2 separate regions of the Homo sapiens genome follow, and region 2 is linked to region 1. The links come from fine-mapping of genetic effects on gene expression. A gene starts in region 1. The other region holds a variant in brackets. All regions are shown on one strand. Distances are between the middles of the regions.

Region 1 (10,375 bases):
GGGGCCAGGCGTCCGACCAGCCACCTCCAAACCAGCCCCACCCAAGAGGCCCAGAGTCCCCCATCCACACGCATGCCTGCGCCAGCTCCCGTCCCTCCTGCTCCAGGCGCTTCAGAGAAGCCCAGACAACCCCTTGGCCCCCTGGCCTGCACACTGGAGCAGGCGAGGCCCACGGGGTCAGCCACCTGACACAAGGGGAAGCCCTGGGGGGCGCCACACTTCGGGCTCTGGAAGCTGAGACCTCAGGCCTGCCAGGGTCAGTCCCAGGCTGTGCTGGTTTCCAGGGCTGGGCAGAGGGACGGCCACGCATGCCCGTCCCTGGGGATCAGCAGATGTGGGGAGCAGGCATCCAACGCCGCCCTAGCCACTGTCTCCTGGGCCTGGCACACCCATGCCCAGTGGGAATCGCTGGACCTGCTTTTCCTGGGCGGGCCTGCCCTGGGCTCCTGCGGGTTGGTGGCGGGGCCACCAGAAGACTGCGCTCAGGGCCCGGGCTCCCAGCACAAGACCCCAGAGCGAGGCAGGCCCCAGAACCAATTTCCTGGGTGGACAGGGGGAAGCCCGTGAACAGTGCACGCTGGCCTCTGGAACCACCGCTGCTGACCAGCCCCGGACCACTGGGGCTGGGGGGGTGAGGCCGCCAACTGCACTGTGTCCACCCAGTCCTCCAGGATCGATGACCAGCGCTGCCCGCCACCTGACGTACTGCCCCGGGGCCCTACCATGCCGGACGAGGACTTCTTCAGCCTCATTCAGAGGGTGCAGGCTAAGCGCATGGACGAGCAGCGGGTGGACCTCGCCGGGGGCCCGGAGCAGGGGGCAGGCGGCCCGCCCGAGCCCCAGCAGCAGTGCCAGCCTGGTGCGAGCTAAGGCCCTGTGCCCACCGCCAGGCCCACCCTGCCCCCACTCCTGGACGCCGGTCTCACAGTCACAGCCACGTCCTCCCGAGGCCATTGCCGAGGACAGGCACTGGGCATGCAGCCCCACGGCCTCCCCGACCCAGGGCGACAGGCTCAGGCCAAGCTGCCCGTGGTGGGAGGGCGTGCTTCCATCCCGGGCTGGCCCCCATGGCCCTCAGCTTCCTCCCTTCTGCCCCTGCCGCAGGCCGGACGGGGCCTTCGGCATGTCGGCCCCGACCTGGTGCTGTCAGACTCCCGCATCCTCTCCCCCAAGCCCTTCCCGTTCTGCCCTGCCCTGCCAAATGTGAAACCCTGCTGTCTCCCCCACCCTCCCCAAAGGTGTCTCTGAGCCGCCTCTTGGGGCCACCAAGGACAGGGCCATGTTCTGTCCCCCCAGAGCTGGTCTTGGGATGGCCGTGTGACAGGCATGCTCCACCCCTCCAGCTTCGTCCTGGGGCAGGGCTCCCTCCAAGCCTGTCTCCCCACTCCCCGGCCAGAGGTCAGCAACCACAGAAGGCCCCCCAGACCACGCATGGCAGACCAGGCTGCAGTGGCAGCCCTGAGGTGCCCCCCGCCGAGTCCCAGGGCCCTGCAGGGGCCTCGACAGGAGCCGGGCCTATCTCTAAAGCAGAGGGAATGGCTGGGCATGAACTTCGACATTCCAAAACCCCAAGCCAGGAAAAAGGGCAGGGCCTGGTCCTAGGGATGCTTACTGGCAGCAAGAGCAGTGCCCAGTCAGGGTGGGAGGTAGCACCAGGCTCTGTGACCCTCACCCAAGTGGGGGGGTGGTCAGTGGAAGCTGGGGAGGCTTCACTCAGCTCAACCCTGCAGACCCCCCATATGAGAACCCCCCTCCTCCCACCAGCTGGGGGAGATGACATCACTGCTCTCTCCATGGGGAGGGGGCTCACAGGGCACCAAGTTCGGGATCCTAGGACTGGCAGGACCTGCTGGAGCCTGAGATGGGCCCCAGGGGCCTGAGGTTGCCTCCTCCTGTCCAGACCCAGCCTTGGCACCTCCCAAGACTGCCAAGGGCCCTACCATGGCCCCACAGCCCCCAGGGCTGGCAGTTCCATCTAGGAGGGTGCCTCTAGGCCCCACTCTCAGGCTAGGATGGAGAGGCAGATCTGGGCCTGGTGAGGTGACCTGCTTCTGGAGGGGCAGGGCCGCACCCGAGAGCAGGGACAGGTGCCCGAACACAGGGTCTCCAGGACGTAGCGCCCCCCCGCATACTTGAATGTATGTGCGTATTTATTGCTCACGTCTGTGCCATGTTGTCAATGGGTCCTTTCCAACCCAAGAGGTACATTTGTTTTTCTGTTTTTCCTGAAAAATAAAGTCGGCCAAGTGAGTGTGGTCCGTATGGGCTTAGTCCCGGGTGGGGGCCTAACCCGGTAAGAGGCTGCACTGTGCAAAGTGTCCACAGATACCCACTGTCTGGGCCCTCTGAGACCTCAGAGAGATGGAGTTCCCACTGCATTTAACCACGGGGGAGCTGGGGCACAGAGGGGTGAAGTGGCTGCCTGCTGTCACCACTGATTCCTGCACCCCTACCTCCTCACGCTCCCAGCCCCTAGGGAAACAGAGCATGCTCTGAGCTGACACTCACGTGGCCGGGACCAGCCCCCAGAAGCAGCAGCCCCCAGGTCAGCCCCACGACCCCCTGAGGACCCAGCCTGCTGCCGCCCACCCAGCACCCGGGGGAGGGAGGTCCTTTCCTGGAGTCTGATCCGGCTGGGCTCAGGGTCTGGACACTGAGCCACAGTGGAGGAGCCGACGGCAGATCTGCAGTCTTGGGGCTTGTCTGGGCGCTGCTTGTGGTGGGTGGCACCCCCACGGGGCCCCCGTCAGGGGACACACAGGTGCGCCGGGCAGTCCTGCTGCCCCTCGCCACAGCCCACCTGGCCATGTTGGCAGCCACAGCCTCTGTGCTGGTTGACTCCGTTGCCTCCTCCACCCCAGAAGGGGCCTTGGGAACCAGAATCAACGTGTACTCCAGGTCCAGGGTCCCAGCCAGCTTGCGTGTGGTGGTACACGCACACAGGGTCCAAGTAACCGTGCAGGGCCCAGGACCGCGCACAGCCAGGGAAGCGCAGCAGTGCCGCCCACGCTACTGGCTGGGACAGCCTCTGAAGGTGCGGCCGAGGAACCTGCTTGGAGAGACGCTGTGACGAGGGATGCCCAGGCCAGCAACCGTGCCCGGGAGGCAGGGATGTCCTGGGGCGGGGGGGTGTAGAGTGGCAGGAGATTAGGATGGCAAAGCCCCTTGCAGAAACCTGGCTGTGGGATTGGGGCTGCGGGGAGGGAAGGGCGGAGGGAGACAGGGTCCAGGGGGCCTCAGGCAGGAGCTGGCGGGATGCTTCTGGCACGCGGGGGGTAGCCATAGGTCTTCTCTAGGAACGTGCCAGCCTTGGGAAGGATTTCCCTCCAGGGCCAGCCTGGGCCCAGAGGTGCTGGCATCAGACAGAAAAGACATGGTAACGTCCACATCCCAACTACCAGCCGCCATCTCCCCATCCGTAAGAGGAGGGGTTGGCCCAAGCGGCTCTCCTTGCTCTAATTCTGCACTTCCAGGTCCAGACGGCTCCCTGGACCTCCCCACATGCTGGTCCAGGCCCTCTGGAGGCAGTGAGGCAGCCAAGCCAAGCCCAGCCCCACTGCACTTCCAAGCCCCCAAGAGACCCCCAGCCAGTGCCTCCATGGAGGAGCAGGCCTGGGTGCCGGTGGCTCAGCCGAGAAGAGGACAGTTTCCACAAATGGCACAGAAGGCTCTGGGTGGGAATAATAGAGGGTTGTTGGCTGAAAGAAGGACAGGGGGTAATCGAGGCAAAGCCCACGCCACAAGCACACTGGGAACGATGCCGCCGCGCCCCGGCCTCCCACGGGCCGGATGTGAGCTGGCAGTCCTGGCCGTGTCCCGCTGGGAGGGGCCGCACTGGGTCCCTGTCGTGCTCAGTCCTGCCTCCACCTCCCACCTCGCCCCATTCTCTTCCCTGCCGGAGTGTGGCGGGTGATGAATGCTGAAGGTTACGCTGCCCAGAACGCTTCTGCAAATAAACAGGCTGCTGTGTTTGCTCGCTTTCATAAACACGGGAACATCCTGCGCACAGACAAGGCTGGGAGACAAACCCCACACACCTCGGAGGGCCCTGGGGACGTCCAGAGCGCTGTCCACCGAGGGAAGGAGGCCCAGGTGGCTCCCCCGGGAGGGGTCTGGAGCTCCTAACACACGGCCACGCCATAGCTGCTCGTCCTGCCTGGGCCAGCAGGCAGCCTGGTTTGCTCACTGTTTCGCCGACGGCCGGCGGCCGAGGACCAGGGCTCAGGTCTGCACTGGCTCACGGAAGGGAGGCCGCCAGAGCTGGCCAGGGGGGCGGCAAGGGCCTTGCAGAGGAAGGCTGAGGCTCACAGGGGTGGTGACCTGCTCAAAGTCACGCAGCGACAGCCAGGAAGGGCTCTGACGCCACATCCAGCCCCCTTTCCACGCGACTGTGGCCTCTGTGGGCAAGAGCTGGGTGACTCTGTGTAGAAGGAACTGTGGTGAGGCGAGAGGTCCTGCGGCTCCTATGTCCCACCCAGCAGCACCAGGGATTCAGAGCAATCGTTCTAACTCCAGAAAAAGAAAGGCCACGAGGGCCACAGGCCCCAGCATCTGGAAGTAATGTCTGTTTATTGATAGAAAACAGGCCACGTCCAGAGAGGCCCAGGGCCAAAACCTCCTTCTGGAAGGCCGAAGTCCCACAGTGCCGGGGAGCGCAGGAGTCAGCTCGGCTCCGTCTTGCCAGGGCTGGGGGGACCCTCATCCTCACCCGCTTCCGGAGCTGCAGTGGATGTGGGGGCCCCTGCAGCCTCCAGAACCAGTTCCAGGGCCCCCTCGCCCGCCACACGGTGCACCTGCTCGCCTCTGGCCGTCAGGATCTCTTCGATATTTCTGGGGGGCAGGGAGGCAACATGGCTCTTCAGGGCCCCCCAGCCGCCCTGCACTTCAGTCCCCTCAGGGCGCCCCATGGCCAGGCCAGAGCTGCAAGCACCAGGCCCAGCACTCCTGTGGCATCAGGCCACACGGGCACTTCAGACGCTGGCCTGTGTGCCCTCACCAGCCCTGTGTCTCTGCCGGTATGCGCCGCCTCAGGAACCCAGTCTCCTGCTCCTGCCCCCTATGTGCCAGAGGGAAGAATCTGCAGCCCCGGGTCTGATGGGAGGACAGTCCCAGCTCCAAGGGCCAGGTACCACCAAGCACCTGGCATGCTGGTCTCAGACCTGCTGTCGCTGTTACTGTCCTGCCCAGGACCTCCCGGCCAGGCAAGGCCCGGACCAGGCTCCCGGCACCACCTCCACTGCTCTCCCAGCAGCCAGGGCCCAGGCCACACCTCCTGGTCCACACCCCAAGCCTTGCTGTGGGCCAGCCACCCCAAGATGGCAGAGGGCAAAAAAGTTCCACGCTAGAGAGGGACAAGGCTGCCAGTGATGGCAGAGGGCAGGCAGAGGCAGGGAGGCAGGGCCACAGGGCTGGCAAAATTTAACAAATAAAAACGCACCCCCTACTTGGGGCATACTTAAACTCAAAAGCTATCTGGGCTTTATAGGAAATTCTCATTTAACTGTGTGTCTTGTATTGATAAGGTGGCTGGATTTCCCAGGTGAGATCTATAAACCTCAACACTAGGGCAAGGTTCCCCCAGGGAGGCCAGGGTACTTCTGGGTGGCCTTCTGGCCCAGCCCTGGGGTACAGGCCTCACCTCTTCCCATTCAGGTCCGAGAACCAGCCCAGGTTGTCAGCGATGATATGGTGGTTCTGGCAGCCGGGGCAGGTCACAATGACCACGCCTTGGTGATAGGCCAGCTTGGAGATGCGCTTGGAGGACCTAGTCCCGCAGACCTGGCTGGGACAGGGTAGCTGGTGAGGCTGTGAGGGCCGCCACGCCCCTCCCGGGAAGACCCGCCCCTCTAGGGGTAGCTCCAGCCACCTCACCCTCTCCAGAGAAGGCCCCGCCCCCGAGGGATAGCTCCACCCACCCCCAACCTCGCCCTCTCCCGGGAAGGCCCCGCCCCAGGGACGGCTCCACCCCTCCTCATGGTCCGCCTCCGCTCCCTCCCAGAAGCCCCAAGGGGTGGCTCCACTCCTTCCTGTGACTTGACCACGCCGCCTCCCGGATCCCCGGCGGGCCGCTTCTCCCCGCAGGCCGTGTAGCGTCAGATACGGGTCTGTCCCCGGTTCCGTCCCGCCGCGCGCCTACCTTGCAGGTGTAGACGAGCTGGTAGTGCGCCGCCTCCACGCGCCCCAGAGCCGCCGCGGGCCCCGGCCCCTGCTCGGAGCTTGAGCGCCGCCAGCCCCAGGCCCAGGCCCGCCGCCTCCCCGCGACCTCTGGACGGGCCCCGCGGCCCCACAGCCGCCTCAGGCAGGGCGCCCGGGGCTGCACGCGACTCAGCAACCTCGGCGCGCCGCGCAGCGCAGTCCGCAGCATCCCGCTCGCCGGCTCCGTCCGCCCTGCCCCGGCCCCGCCCCGCCGCCATCTTGGAAGTGGGCGCCGGGCGGAAGCGGCGTTCTTGGGCTTCCGTCTTCCGGGTCGGGGGCGCGCTGCGCTATGCCGCCCCCTGGCGGCCTGAGGGGGCCCTGCGTCCACGTGCAGCTCGCACCCCGAGGACACCGCGGGCCGCAGCGAGGAGGGACGGCCGCGGGGCTGCGCGCGAGTGTCCGAGCGGGAATGCGGGTCACCCGTGCTGTTTATTTACGCAGCTGTGTTTTCTAACACTAATACAATGCATGCATGTATTGTGTGTTACATGGTGAAACAGAACAGATCCTGAAGTTACACAGATGGCGTGTGCATGGGGGTGGTGAGCACCCGCATGGCCTCCGCAAAATGAGTGCCGCTTAACAAACGGCCCCAATGCCCGGCAGTCCGGCTGGGCCTTTCAGGGCACCAGATTCCTCGTTCCAGGCCAAGTCAGCGACGGCTCGGGGAAGTCTGCGCCCCAGGGCGTCGGCACCCCCGGGTGGCAGGAGGCCGGGCCGGTGGGTGTGCCCTGGTCGGGGCCTGCGCTGCTGCGGCTAGGAGCCCTCAGTGTCGGTGTTGTCGCTGCCCGTGGTGTTCTCCCGGTCCTCCTCCCCCTGCCGCCATCCTTTCTGCATCTTCCTGAGGGCGCGCTTCCTGTGAAGACAGGTGTCTCAGGCGCGACCCGGCTGCCGCTCCCCAGCCCGTTTTGGAGAAGCCTGGGGGCCGCCCGCCTACCTGCGGTAGTTCTCAAAACTCTCTTTGAGGCGCCGCCGCTCCTTCTCGGGCGGCTCCCCGCTGCTCAGGCCTGCGTCCTGGAGAAGGGGGAAGGCTCGGGCTCCGGCCGGCTCCCCTGAGGGAACCCGTCCTTCTCACCCGCCCCCCACTGGCCCCTGTAACTGCAGACTGGTTGGGAGGCGAGGAGCCCAGACAGCCTCAGCTCAGCGCCAAGCTCTCCCTGTGGGACCTGCCTGTACCCCTGGAGGTGAGCCGGTGTGGGTAGCCTGCATTTCAGATGCCAAGACACACCCAGGAGGCCAAGCCACGGCTCCAGCCTGGGGTCCGGGCCATTGTTTCTACAACAAAGCCCGAGGTGGTGCTTGCTCTCAGGACTCCTGTGTTCACCTCCTCATCCACTGTAAAGGCCCTCGGAAAACCAGGACCAGGCACATCCACGTCCAAAAAGCCCCCCAAGCTGCTGCAGTGCCCAAGAAAGGGGGATCCACTTCGCAGCCCAGACACCGCACCCCGAGCACTGTGGGCAGAGACCTTGTGGTCACTCCTCAGCTGTCGTCGGGGCCACCGCAGGGGGTGCCCAGGGCAGGGAGCCACTCTCCCTGTGATCGGTCACCCTGAGGCCCACGGCTGGGAGGACCCCACCCCGGGGAAGCCTTACATGGGGGTTCCGCAAAACCTGCTCCTGGTGCAGAGCTGCAAAGGGCTGTTTCGGGCTCCCCCCGCCGGCAAGGCAGCCTGGAAAGGAGAGTCGTGCCTGTGGGACCTGCCCATCTGCTGGGCCACGTATAGCACGGCTGCCCCACCCCTCCCCGGCATTGCAGTGGGGCTGTCTTCCAAGGCCTGGTGGGATCCCCACATGGGTCCAGTGTAGACTCTGCTTTCTGTAGATGAGACTGAGGCCTTATGGCCTCGCTTGCCTGTTCATTGCTCCAGGAGGCCGCCAGATGCCAGCCCAGGCCCAACGCTCCCGCCAGTGACCATCCCTCCCCCGAGCTGGCTGCCTGCCAGGGAGGAACGCCTCCCAGACCTCGGGGGAACTTAAACCCTGGGCCTGAGCAGCACCGTCCCCCATCACTCCAAAGCATCTGTGGGCATGGCGGCCCTGGGGAGAGAGTTGGGGACAGCTACAGTGGCTGTCTGGGTCCTCCTGAAGTGGGGGCAGGGGTACTGCAGCAATTGGGAGAGAACCTTCAGGCGGCTGGACCCCCTCAGAAACCGCCAGGACCTGGGCAGACCAGGGATCAGGACCCTTGGGCAGAAACCACGCACGTCCAGTCTCAGCCCCACTGCGGTGAGGGCCAGGCCAGGGCTGTCCTGGCCATTGGCAGCCCCTTAGAGCCAGCCCCTCCCCTGCTCACCCTCCAACCTTCACACCTGCCCCTGCTCCTGCCACAGCCACCCAGGGGGATGGGGGCAGTGCCTGAGCCGGACTCCTGGGTCCTGCTCGCCTCTGTGCCTACATGGGGGCTTGGCATCCCCATGTTCAAGTGTTCTGAGCTGCAGCCAAAGGCGCTGGTCTTCACTTCCCCGTCTGCGGCTCCTCCTTCCCCTTCCGCCTCTGCTTGGAGGCCACGGCCTGGTACTCAGGAAGCTTGTCCAACTCCGGTGCAGCCTCCCAGGACCCCTCTGCTGGGCCCTCCCCAACCCCTACCTGACAGCACCTTCAGTGCAAACACCTACCTCATCACCACTGCCCACTCCTGGACACTCGGGAGCTGCTCCCAGCTAGCCACCCAGTCCTTCCCCCAGACAGGCAGAGGGGGCCTGCCCTGCCCGCTAGAAGCCCCTGCCACTGCCTTACCCCCACTGCACCGGGACACAGCAGGCCCTTGGCCACCCCTGCATTCAGCCCTTTCCCTCAAGCCACGTGGGGCCCCATCTCGCCCCATCTTCTAGCTTCATGCACCTGGTCGTTCGCTCGTTACCACCTCCCTCTGTCCAGGAGGAAGCTTGGAGCAGCCAGGACTGGGCCTGCTCACCTCTGCACCCCGTGGGGGCTGCCCAGAGGGGCCCCACACTCTCAGGACGGTGGGCCTGCTCACCTCTGCAGCCCATGGGGGCTGCCCAGACCCCCACACTCTCCACCCCAGGGGACACTTGTCCCACTAGCTGGGGCCCTGGGTTCCAGCTGGGCTCTGTAGTTTGTTCTCTAGGTGACCTTGACCATTTTACTTATCCCCAGCCCCAGTTTCCCTGTCTGTGGAGTGGGGGTTGTGGGGGTTGACACAGGCATTGCGGCACGGGCTGCCTGTGCTGAAGATGGGCCTCACTTGGGGAAGCTGGGAGGCCTCTGGGTGTACTGCTGTCCCCACCTCACCTTTGTCTGAGAGCTGGGTGTCCTCCAGGTCCTGGGGGAGTGAGAGCTTCCAAAGAGAGTCAAGATGTCCCATTAGGCCACTTCGCCAAGGACTGGACCCGGCCACACTGCCCACCCCAGCCCTTGGCCCTCAGCTGGGTGCAGCCATTGCCGTCACCCCCTGCACAGAGCTTCTCAGAGACTCAGGTGCCCAGCAGACGGACATTGGGCGGCCAGGAGGTGGGCACTGTCCGTGCCTTACCTTACCCCTTGAGCCATCAGAGGCCTTAGCATTTGGCCACCTGCTCTTCCTCCACCCAGCCCAGCCCACCGAGCAGGGCCATGTGACGGGCAGTGTGGGGCTATGCCTGGTGGCAGCTCAGCCAGGACCCCAGGTGAAGGAAGGCCAGCCTCGTGCTGGCTGGGGTCTCACTCACCTCCTGGGACCTCCTGGGTGAGCCATCTTCCAGGTCGGAGCTCTGTGGTCATAGAAAATGGGGTGGGTGGGCTGTGAGGGCAGAGGGCTCCCCAGGCACAGGGTGGGCAGGGCACAGAGCGGGATCCTCCAGGGAGCCCTGGGCATGCCCTCAGCCACACCAGGCCCCCTCCATGCCCAGAACAACCTGCTAGGCTGCCTGATGGCCAGGCCCAGGACCCACCCCGGCCCTGCAGCCCCACTTCCTGCTGGGACCCTGAACTGCTCGTGTGCCCTCACCCCACTGCCAGGAGGGGTTTGGTTAGGTTGGGGCCCGTCACAGAGAAGGGTTGGGTCGGGAAGGCCGGGGCTGAGGCTCCGTGCTCCCCTGGCCCTGCATCCCACGCGCCGGCTCCCCTCCCTGCCGCAGGCCCCAGGCCCACCAGGACGAGCGTCTCCAGCTGCTGCCGCCTGAGCCTGCCCTCCACGGCCAGTAGCTGCGCCTCACACTGGAACACCTGCAGCTGCAGCT
Region 2 (8,000 bases), 25 kb after region 1:
AGTGGGAGGCCTGGGCAGACCTCGGGACAGGGCCGTGGGCCCTGGCAGGGACCTGCACCGGACTCGTCTCCTCTCCAGGAGCCGCGGCTGTGGTGGAAGCTTCCTTGCTGCCGCCCTGGCTGGCACTGGACCCCTTGGGAGGGCTGAGGGAGGCAGCGGGGCCTCCCAGCCAGGCCCCTGCCCCTCCTCTCCATGGCTGGCTGGTGCTCTGCCTGGCAGGAACCCACAGGTCCATGTCCGGGACCATGTACTGTGGGGACAGCAGCGCTCTGTCACCCTCCCCGGCCTGCGCCTGCTCTGGCTCGTCCTCCTCGCTGCTGCTGCTGCTGCTGCTGCTGCTCCCTCCACTGCTGCCACTGCTGCTGCCGCTGCTGCTGGTAGAGCTCCACCGGACGCTGTGACGGGCCCTCCGCCGCCGCCTCCGGAGACCCTGCTTCTTCTGAGGGGAGGAAAGAGCTACTTAGAGGCCTTGGCAAGCCCGGTTCACCCATGATGGCAGCAAGCAGGCCAGCCCTTTGGGGAGAGGCCCAAGCGGGGGCGCCTCCGGGGTCAAGAGCAGCCGCTGCCGAGGCAGGGTCTCCCTTTGCCCTTGGCCACCCAGAAGAAGAAATGCCAAGACCAGAAACCGAACGCCCCCCTCCCCTCCCCTCCTCCTGCCTGCTGGACCCCCCAGTTGACCAGGCCATTGTCTGGTTTCAGATAAAGAAGGAGCGAGTGGCTCACCCCCATCATGATCTTCCACTTGCTCAGACACTGGGAGCCAGACCGATGGGGCAGCTCAGAAGCTATTTTTGCCCAGTGACCTGCAAAAGCCAAACCCCATGGAAATGCCTTCATCCAAAGATTCTTCCCCAGGACAGGCTTGCTGTTCCCCAGGAGACTCGCCGTGGCCCCATCAGAGTGGAGCCTCCTGTGCACTCTCACGCTGGGGGGTCAAGCATGTTGGGTGCCTACAATTTGGCAGCATCTGATTCTCATTGGATGCTCAGCCCCTTAGGAAAGTTCTGCCAAACATGTAACTGAGAAGGAAAAATCGTCCTAAGCGCACACCACGGCCCTCACATATCTGCTCCCCCCAGGCTTCCGCACCAGCCACCTCCCACGATTCCCGCTCTTCACAGTGTGGGGCAGCAGGAGGAGCACGGGTGCTGCTCTCACAGGGCAGAGCCACAGTATCTGGTGTGTCCTTGAACGTGGCAATACCACAGCTAGGATTTACTCTAAGGGGACATTGCAAATATAAGCAAAGACTTCGCTACAGAACACTCAGCTCGTCGGGTGTGGTGGCACACACCTGCAGTCCCAGCTACTTGGGAGGCTGGGGCGGGAGGATGGCTTGAGCCCAAAAGTTTGAGGCTGCAGTGGGCTATGGTCGCACCACCGCACCCCAGCCTGGACGACAGAGCTTGCTCTGTCTTTATCTTGATCTCTTTTCTAAGAAACAAAAAACAAAAAAAAGAAACTAGAAGAACAAACTGTCAGCAACTTACCGACACCATATTTTTCTATTAATTCAATTAACTGTTCCTCTTCTTTTAAATTCCACCGACCCTTTTTCAAGCTGAAATGTAATCTCCTGAGATACCTGAACGTGACATGAAAAGCAAAGAACGTTTTAGATGCCGAGACGCCGCCCGCTGCTGCCCCAAGCTTCTTTAATGGTTTCTTGGATATGACACTAAAGGCGCAAGCAACAAAAGAAAACTACAGATAAAGTAGACTTCATCAAAAGCTAAAGCTTTTGTGTCCCAAAGGACACCATCAAAAAAGTAGAAAGTGTACAGGCTGGGAGAGAACGTTTGCAAGTCACGTGTCCGATAAAGGACTTATATCTGAAACATATGAAGAACTCTTACAAGTCAGTCATAACTAGACAAGTAATGTCAAAAATGGGCAAAGGACTTCAACAGACACTTCTCTAAAAACCTATTTCTATGAACAGTCACCAACCACATGAAAAGAGGCTCCACATCAGCCACAGGGAAGCGCACGTCAAAACCACAAGACACCACTTCACACCCGCTAAGATGGCTAGAATCACAGACAGATCACAAGTGCTGGTGAGAGTGTGGAAAACCGGAGCCCTCATACATTCCTAGTGGGAATACGAAATGGTTCAACCTCTTTGGGAAACAGTCTGGCCATTCCTCAAAAGGTTAAACACAGCGTTACCCGGACCGAGCAATTTCACTCGCAGGATATAGCTGAGAGAAATAAACAGATATCTATGTAAAAAAGTGCAAGCAAATGTTCAGAATGTTTTCAGGGTTCATCCATGTTGTATCAGAATTTACAGAAACGCGGTATTTATATGAGAATCCCACTCCCCCCCCTTTTGTTTTTTTTGAGACGGAGGCTCACTGTCGCCCAGGCTGGAGTGCAGTGGCGCAATCTCAGCTCGCTGCAACCACCAACTCCCAGGTTCAAGTGATTCTCCTGCCTCAGCCTCCCGAGTAGCTGGGATTACAGGTGCCCACCACCATGTGTGGCTAGTTTTTGTATTTTTAGTAGAGACAGGGTTTTACCATATTGGCCAGGCTGGTCTTGAACTCCTGACCTCATGATCTGTCCGCCTTGGCCTCCCAAAGTGCTAGGATTACAGGCGTGAGCCACCGAGCCCTGCCAACCCCTTTTTAAGGCCGAATAATATTCCCTTGTATGAAAATTTTATTTTCCACTCATCTGCTGATGAATGCTTGGGCTGCTTCCGGCCTTTCACTCTTGTGAATGATGCTGCTGTGGACATTGTTGTATCTGAGCTCCTACTTTCGATTCTTTTGGGTTTTATGCTTATCAATCTTGGGGGTATAATTCTATGTTTAACTCGCTGACGAACTGCCATGCTTTCCAAAGAGGCTGGACCATTTTACAACGCACAAAGGTTTCAATTTCTCGACATCCTTGCCAACACGGTGACTTTTTTTTTTTTTTAATTAACAGCCATCCCAACGCGTGTGTGGTTTTGACTTGCACTTCCCTAATGACTCATGGCGCCAGGCATCTCTTCATGTGCTCACTGGCCATCTGTGCATCTTCTTTGGAGAGACGGCCACTCAAGTTCTTTGCCCGCGATTAGATTGGGTTGTTTTTGTCGTTGAATGGCTTTTTCGGGTGATGAAATGTTTTACAATTGATTGTGGTGATGGCTGCACAGCTCAATGAATACTAAATACTAAAAACCACTGACCTCTACCTCTACACTTCATTTTTTTTTTTTTTTTTTTGAGACGGAGTTTCACTCGTCGCCCAGGCTAGAGTGCAATGGCGTGATCTCGGCTCACTGCATCCTCCGCCTCCCAGTTTCAAGCGATTCTCCTGCCTCAGCCTCCCGAGTAGCTGGGATTACAGGCATGTGCCACCACGCCCGGCTAATTTTGTATTTTTAGTAGAGACGGGGTTTCTCCATGTTGGTCAGGCTGGTCTCAAACTCCCAACCTCAGGTGATCCGCCGGCCTCGGCCTCCCAAAGTGTTGGGATTATAGGCGTGAGCCACTGAACCTGGCCTTCTACACTTCATTTTAATTAATTAATTAATATTTTTTTGAGACAGTCTTGCTCTGTCACCCAGGCTGGAGTGCTGTGGCGTGATCTCAGCTTACTGCAACATCCACCTCCCAGGCTCAAGCGATTCTCCTGCCTCAGCCTCCCAAGTAGCTGGGATTACAGGCGCCACCCCCACCATGCCCGGGTAACTTTTGTGCTTTTAGTAGAGATGGGGTTTCGTAGAGACGGGGTTTTGACCTGGCCTCAAGTGATCCGCCTGCCTTGACCTCCCAAAGTACTGGGATTACAGGCGTGAGCCACTGCGCCCAGCTTCGGAAATATACACTTTAAATGAACGCATCGCATGGTGTGTGAATTATCTCAACGAAGCTGTTTTTGAAAGGAAAATAAGCAGGAAAAGGAGGGAGCTGCAGCTGTGTGCCCAGAGGTCCTGCCTATCAGCATTCTGAGAGAACTGAGACAACTAGGGTCAGGAAAAGCCGCCCAGGGAGCTGTCTCAAGTGGAGCCCATGCGTTGCTCCGGCAGACAGCAATACAGAAGTCAGGCTTGGAAAACACAGCTCAGCCGGGCCAACCCTGGCAAGCAAGCGCCCACAGCCCACACCAGAGTGCACCTGGTCAGCGACCCACACGGGCCCCTCCCTCGCCCAGCGCTGGCCGCTGTCCCCCAGCCCGCCCACAGCCCACACCAGAGTGCACCTGGTCAGTGACCCACACGGGCCCCTCCCTCGCTCAGCGCTGTGCGACTCACCGATCTCGGCACTGGGCATCGCTCCTACCTGGCACCTCTTCCCGGATTTTAAACCAATCCTGCTCCCCGTATTTGGCAACAGCTTGAAGCAACTTCTGCAGGAAGGGACAGGCAGACAAGTGAAGCCTCTGCAGGTACGGCTGCAGCCTCCCCACCCTGAACCCAGTCAGAGAAGGGACCACTGGGGCACAGCAGCCGCTGAACACAGCCGCGTTACCTTCCCAGAGCCCAGTTCTCCTAGGGTCCCGCACACTTACAGCATCTTCCTCCGGGGCCCAGTAACCCTTCTTCAGACCAGGATCCAAGCTCTTGGTCCATCGGTAGATCAGCTGCATGGAGTCTCTCCCTTCCATATAGTAGACAACTAGGGACAGAGGAACAGGGAGGTCCTGTGGGGCCGAGACACACACCCTCCATAGAGTAGACAGCTAGGGACAACAGGGTCCCGTGGGGCCGAGACACCCACCCTCCAGATGGGTCACATAGAAAAGAATCACTTTGGCCAGGTGCAGTGGCATCATGCCTGTCATCCCAGCACTTTGGGAGGCAGAGGCTGGCGGATCACCTAAG[G/A]TCAGGAGTTCGAGACCAGCCTGACCAACATGGTGAAACCCCGTCTCTACTAAAAATACAAAATTAGCTGGGCGTGGTGGCGCATGCCTGTAATCCCAGCTACTTGGGAGGCTGAGGCACGAGAATCGCTTGAACCCGGGAGGCAGAGGTTGCAGTGAGCCAAGATCATGGCGTTGCACTCCATCCTGGGCAACAAGAGTGAAACTCCATCTCAAAAAAAAAAAAAAAAAAGTCACTTGAGTCACCAAGAAGCGAACTGTGGAACAGCCAGGACTGTCTAAGCCCTCGTCTGTCTTGTTGCTTCTCTGTGAATTTTCCCTGCAAGTCTCCAGTGTCCTGATATGGGGCCCTGTGACAGCCTGAGAGCCGTCGGGGTGGAGGGGCCTCACTTCTGCGGTAGGGGATGTGGCTGCCGACGCGCATCTCCTGCACCAGCTGCGTGAGCATGCGGTCCTCCTCCTCTGTCCACTCCTTGCGTTTCAGAGCTTTGTTGTGCTGCTGGAATTTCTGCAGGCACTGGAAGGCGCTGCGGCTGGTCTTCCCAGGCCCAAACAAAAGCAAATGAGTGTTACTGCGCGGCAGGATGTCCAGATCTGGCTCTGAGTGCCCCAGGGCACAGGTGGGCCCATGAGCCACTGGGGTGACCCTTCTGCAGACCCCAGCTCTCCTCCTCCCAGACTCCTGTGGGCTGATGGAGAGCACCCCACGGTAGGAAGACAATACACTCACTAAATAGGACCAGGAAGGACCAGGTGAGAGAGGAATCAAACCTTCACTTAAGAAAATATTAAGAAAAATTCACAATAGGTAAACTGATATGACTCCAAAACCACACTGCAACTCACTCAACAGAAACTCCCAGCTTGGCAAGGGCTGGGAGACGCACTGCTCTGCATGTGGCATGCTCTCTAAATGCAGTTGCTAGCACCTTCTCTCCCTTCTCGAGCTCTAGAGTATCTCTCAGCTAAGGGGTATGGGGTGGAGGAGGTACGGGACAGCCCTTGGTTTGGTGTCCATGTCTCAGGAGACGCCCTCAGAAGAGAGTGCCCCAAAATGACTCTCCCAGCTTCCCTGTGTGGCTCGGCTCAGCAAACCCACCCTCAGTCCACACAGTGGACCATCTGCCCAAATCTTTTCCTCACTCATCTTCTCAAGGGGTTTTCCAAGAGCTGATGAGTGCTACCTGAACCCTGTTCTCTGAAAGTGAGCTGCTGGGTGGCACAGGGCACACAGGGCTAGATATGCTCTGAGGTTTGCTTTTTCTGAAAGTGAGCTGCTGGGTGGCAGAGGGCGCGTGGGGCTGGACGTGCTGTGAGGTTTGCTTTTTCTGAAAGTGAGCTGCTGGGTGGCAGAGGGCACGCAGAGCTGGATGTGGTGCCGCTGAGCTGTGAGTTTTGCTTCCAAGGCTTTCTTCCCCACCAAGTCCTTCCCAGCTCGCTACATCACAGGTCTATCTGAGACTCGTTCACCACAAACAAAACCACCACCCCGGGGTGTGCAAGCTGCAGGGCAATCCTAGTCAACGTGTGTGAGCCTCGCCCGCACGCCCCCAAGAGAGTGCTTCTGGGAACATAACACACTCAAGGCCTCACCCGTCCTCCTACACTCAAGCTGGCGCTTCCCAACCAGTGGAAAGAGAGACCCTTCTCACACCCATCCCAAGCCTGCCGAAGGAGTTGGGAAGGCAAAGGACTGGGGGGTGGGGCGGGATTCAGAGCTGGGCCCTGCTCGGGTAGCTGAGAGCAGCAGCTCTCAAAGGGGGCTGGAGGGTGGCTGGAGTGAAGCTGGAGGGAGGCTGCTGAGGCCTTAGCCTGGCTTTTCTTGACAGTGACTAAAAACACTTCCCTGGAAGGAGAAAGAATCTGGCGGGGGAAAGTGCTGGCGTCACGCTTTCTGATATTAACAGAGAAGCATGTCTGACTATGTGTTCGAAGGAGAAAAAGCCATTAATGGATGGAAGACAGTTGAATTCCCAAAAATCACAAGGAGAAAAACCGGACTTACAGTTTCATCAAACCAGCAAGACAGAGTGGAAGGAAAAGAGGCCACAAAGTAAAACGGACTCGACACACCAGACCCAGGAGGACACCAGGAACACCCACCCTCCCACAAAGCCAGAGGCTGGTCAGGCGGGTGGGAAAGCAAAACCCAGCTGCACGCTGCTTTCATGAAAACACTTGGAAATGACGATTTGTTAAAAGGCTGAAAATACAGGGATGGGCCGGGCGCGGTGGCTCACGTCTGTAATCCCAGCACTTTGGGAGGCTGAGGCCGGCAGATCACAACGTCAGGAGACTGAGACCATCCTGGCTAACACAGTGAAACCCCGTCTCTACTAAAAATACAAAAAATTAGCCGGGCGTGGTGGTGGGCGCCTGTAGTCCCAGCTACTCGGGAGGCTGAGGCAGGAGAATGGCGTGAACCCGGGAGGCGGAGCTTGCGGTGAGCTGAGATCGTGCCACTGCACTCCAGCCTGGGCGACAGAGTGAGACTCTGTTTGAAAAAAAAAAAAAAAAAAAAAAAAGGAAAGAAAAAGAGCTAATGAGCTAACGCAAGCTGGGCTGAATCCCTGGGTGATGGGCTGATCTATGCAACAAACCACCATGGCACACGCTCACCTACGGAACCAAACTGCACATCCTGCACACACAGCCCTGAACTCAAAAAATATGAAAAACAAAAAAGAAAAAAAGAAAGCAGACCCCGATTAAAAAAAGTTATGTGTACCAAACTATGTAGCAGTAAAATATACATAGAAGAAAAACCGATTTGTATTTATTTATTTATTTTTTTTTTTTTTGAGACGGAGTCTTGCTGTCGCCCAGGCTGGAGTGCAGTGGCGCGACGTCCGCTCACCGCAAGCTCCGCCTCCCGGGTTCACGCCATTCTCCTGCCTCAGCCTCCCGAGTAGCTGGGACTACAGATGCCCGCCACCACGCCCGGCTAATTTTGTATTTTTAGTAGAGACGGGGTTTCTCCATGTTGGCCAGGCTGGTCTTGAACTCCCGACCTCAGGTGATCCGCCAGCCTCGGCCTCCCAAAGTGCTGGGATTACAGGGGTGAGCCACTGTGCCCGGCAGAATTAAGCATCTTTAAAGGCAAACTCAATTTAATAGCTGATATAGAGTAGGCCCTACTTACAGAGAACATACCTTTTTCTTAAAAACAGTTTTGG

The links. PIP is the estimated chance that this variant, and not a neighbour inherited with it, causes the effect.
Region 2: its variant is the best candidate, but not a certain one, in a credible set for the expression of DNLZ in spinal cord (GTEx, PIP 0.54).

The regions. Positions count from the first base shown.
Region 1 is chr9:136,357,351-136,367,725 of GRCh38, forward strand. DNLZ (DNL-type zinc finger) reads right to left here and starts at 6,394. Exons shown (of 3, transcript NM_001080849.3): 1 at 6,137-6,394; 2 at 5,639-5,778; 3 at 2,133-4,830. The coding sequence starts at 6,364. The coding sequence ends at 4,662. It overlaps CARD9 (caspase recruitment domain family member 9), which reads right to left. Exons shown (of 13, transcript NM_052813.5): 8 at 10,287-10,375; 9 at 9,866-9,907; 10 at 9,450-9,495; 11 at 7,791-7,867; 12 at 7,133-7,209; 13 at 6,606-7,051. The coding sequence ends at 6,952. LOC124902309 (a long non-coding RNA gene) reads left to right here and starts at 6,019. Exons shown (of 2, transcript XR_007061863.1): 1 at 6,019-6,102; 2 at 10,274-10,375. It overlaps GPSM1 (G protein signaling modulator 1), which reads left to right. Exons shown (of 14, transcript NM_001145638.3): 14 at 664-2,251. The coding sequence ends at 870. RefSeq lists silencers at 5,750-6,029, 6,130-6,629, 6,660-6,759 and enhancers at 6,971-7,861, 7,862-8,751.
Region 2 is chr9:136,383,230-136,391,229 of GRCh38, forward strand. It overlaps SNAPC4 (small nuclear RNA activating complex polypeptide 4), which reads right to left. Exons shown (of 24, transcript NM_003086.4): 11 at 5,215-5,362; 12 at 4,513-4,619; 13 at 4,256-4,350; 14 at 1,491-1,585; 15 at 724-803; 16 at 1-439. Among named protein-coding and RNA genes, the nearest start is that of SNAPC4, 13 kb to the right of the region's middle. The variant G/A (reference allele first, on the strand shown) is at 4,826.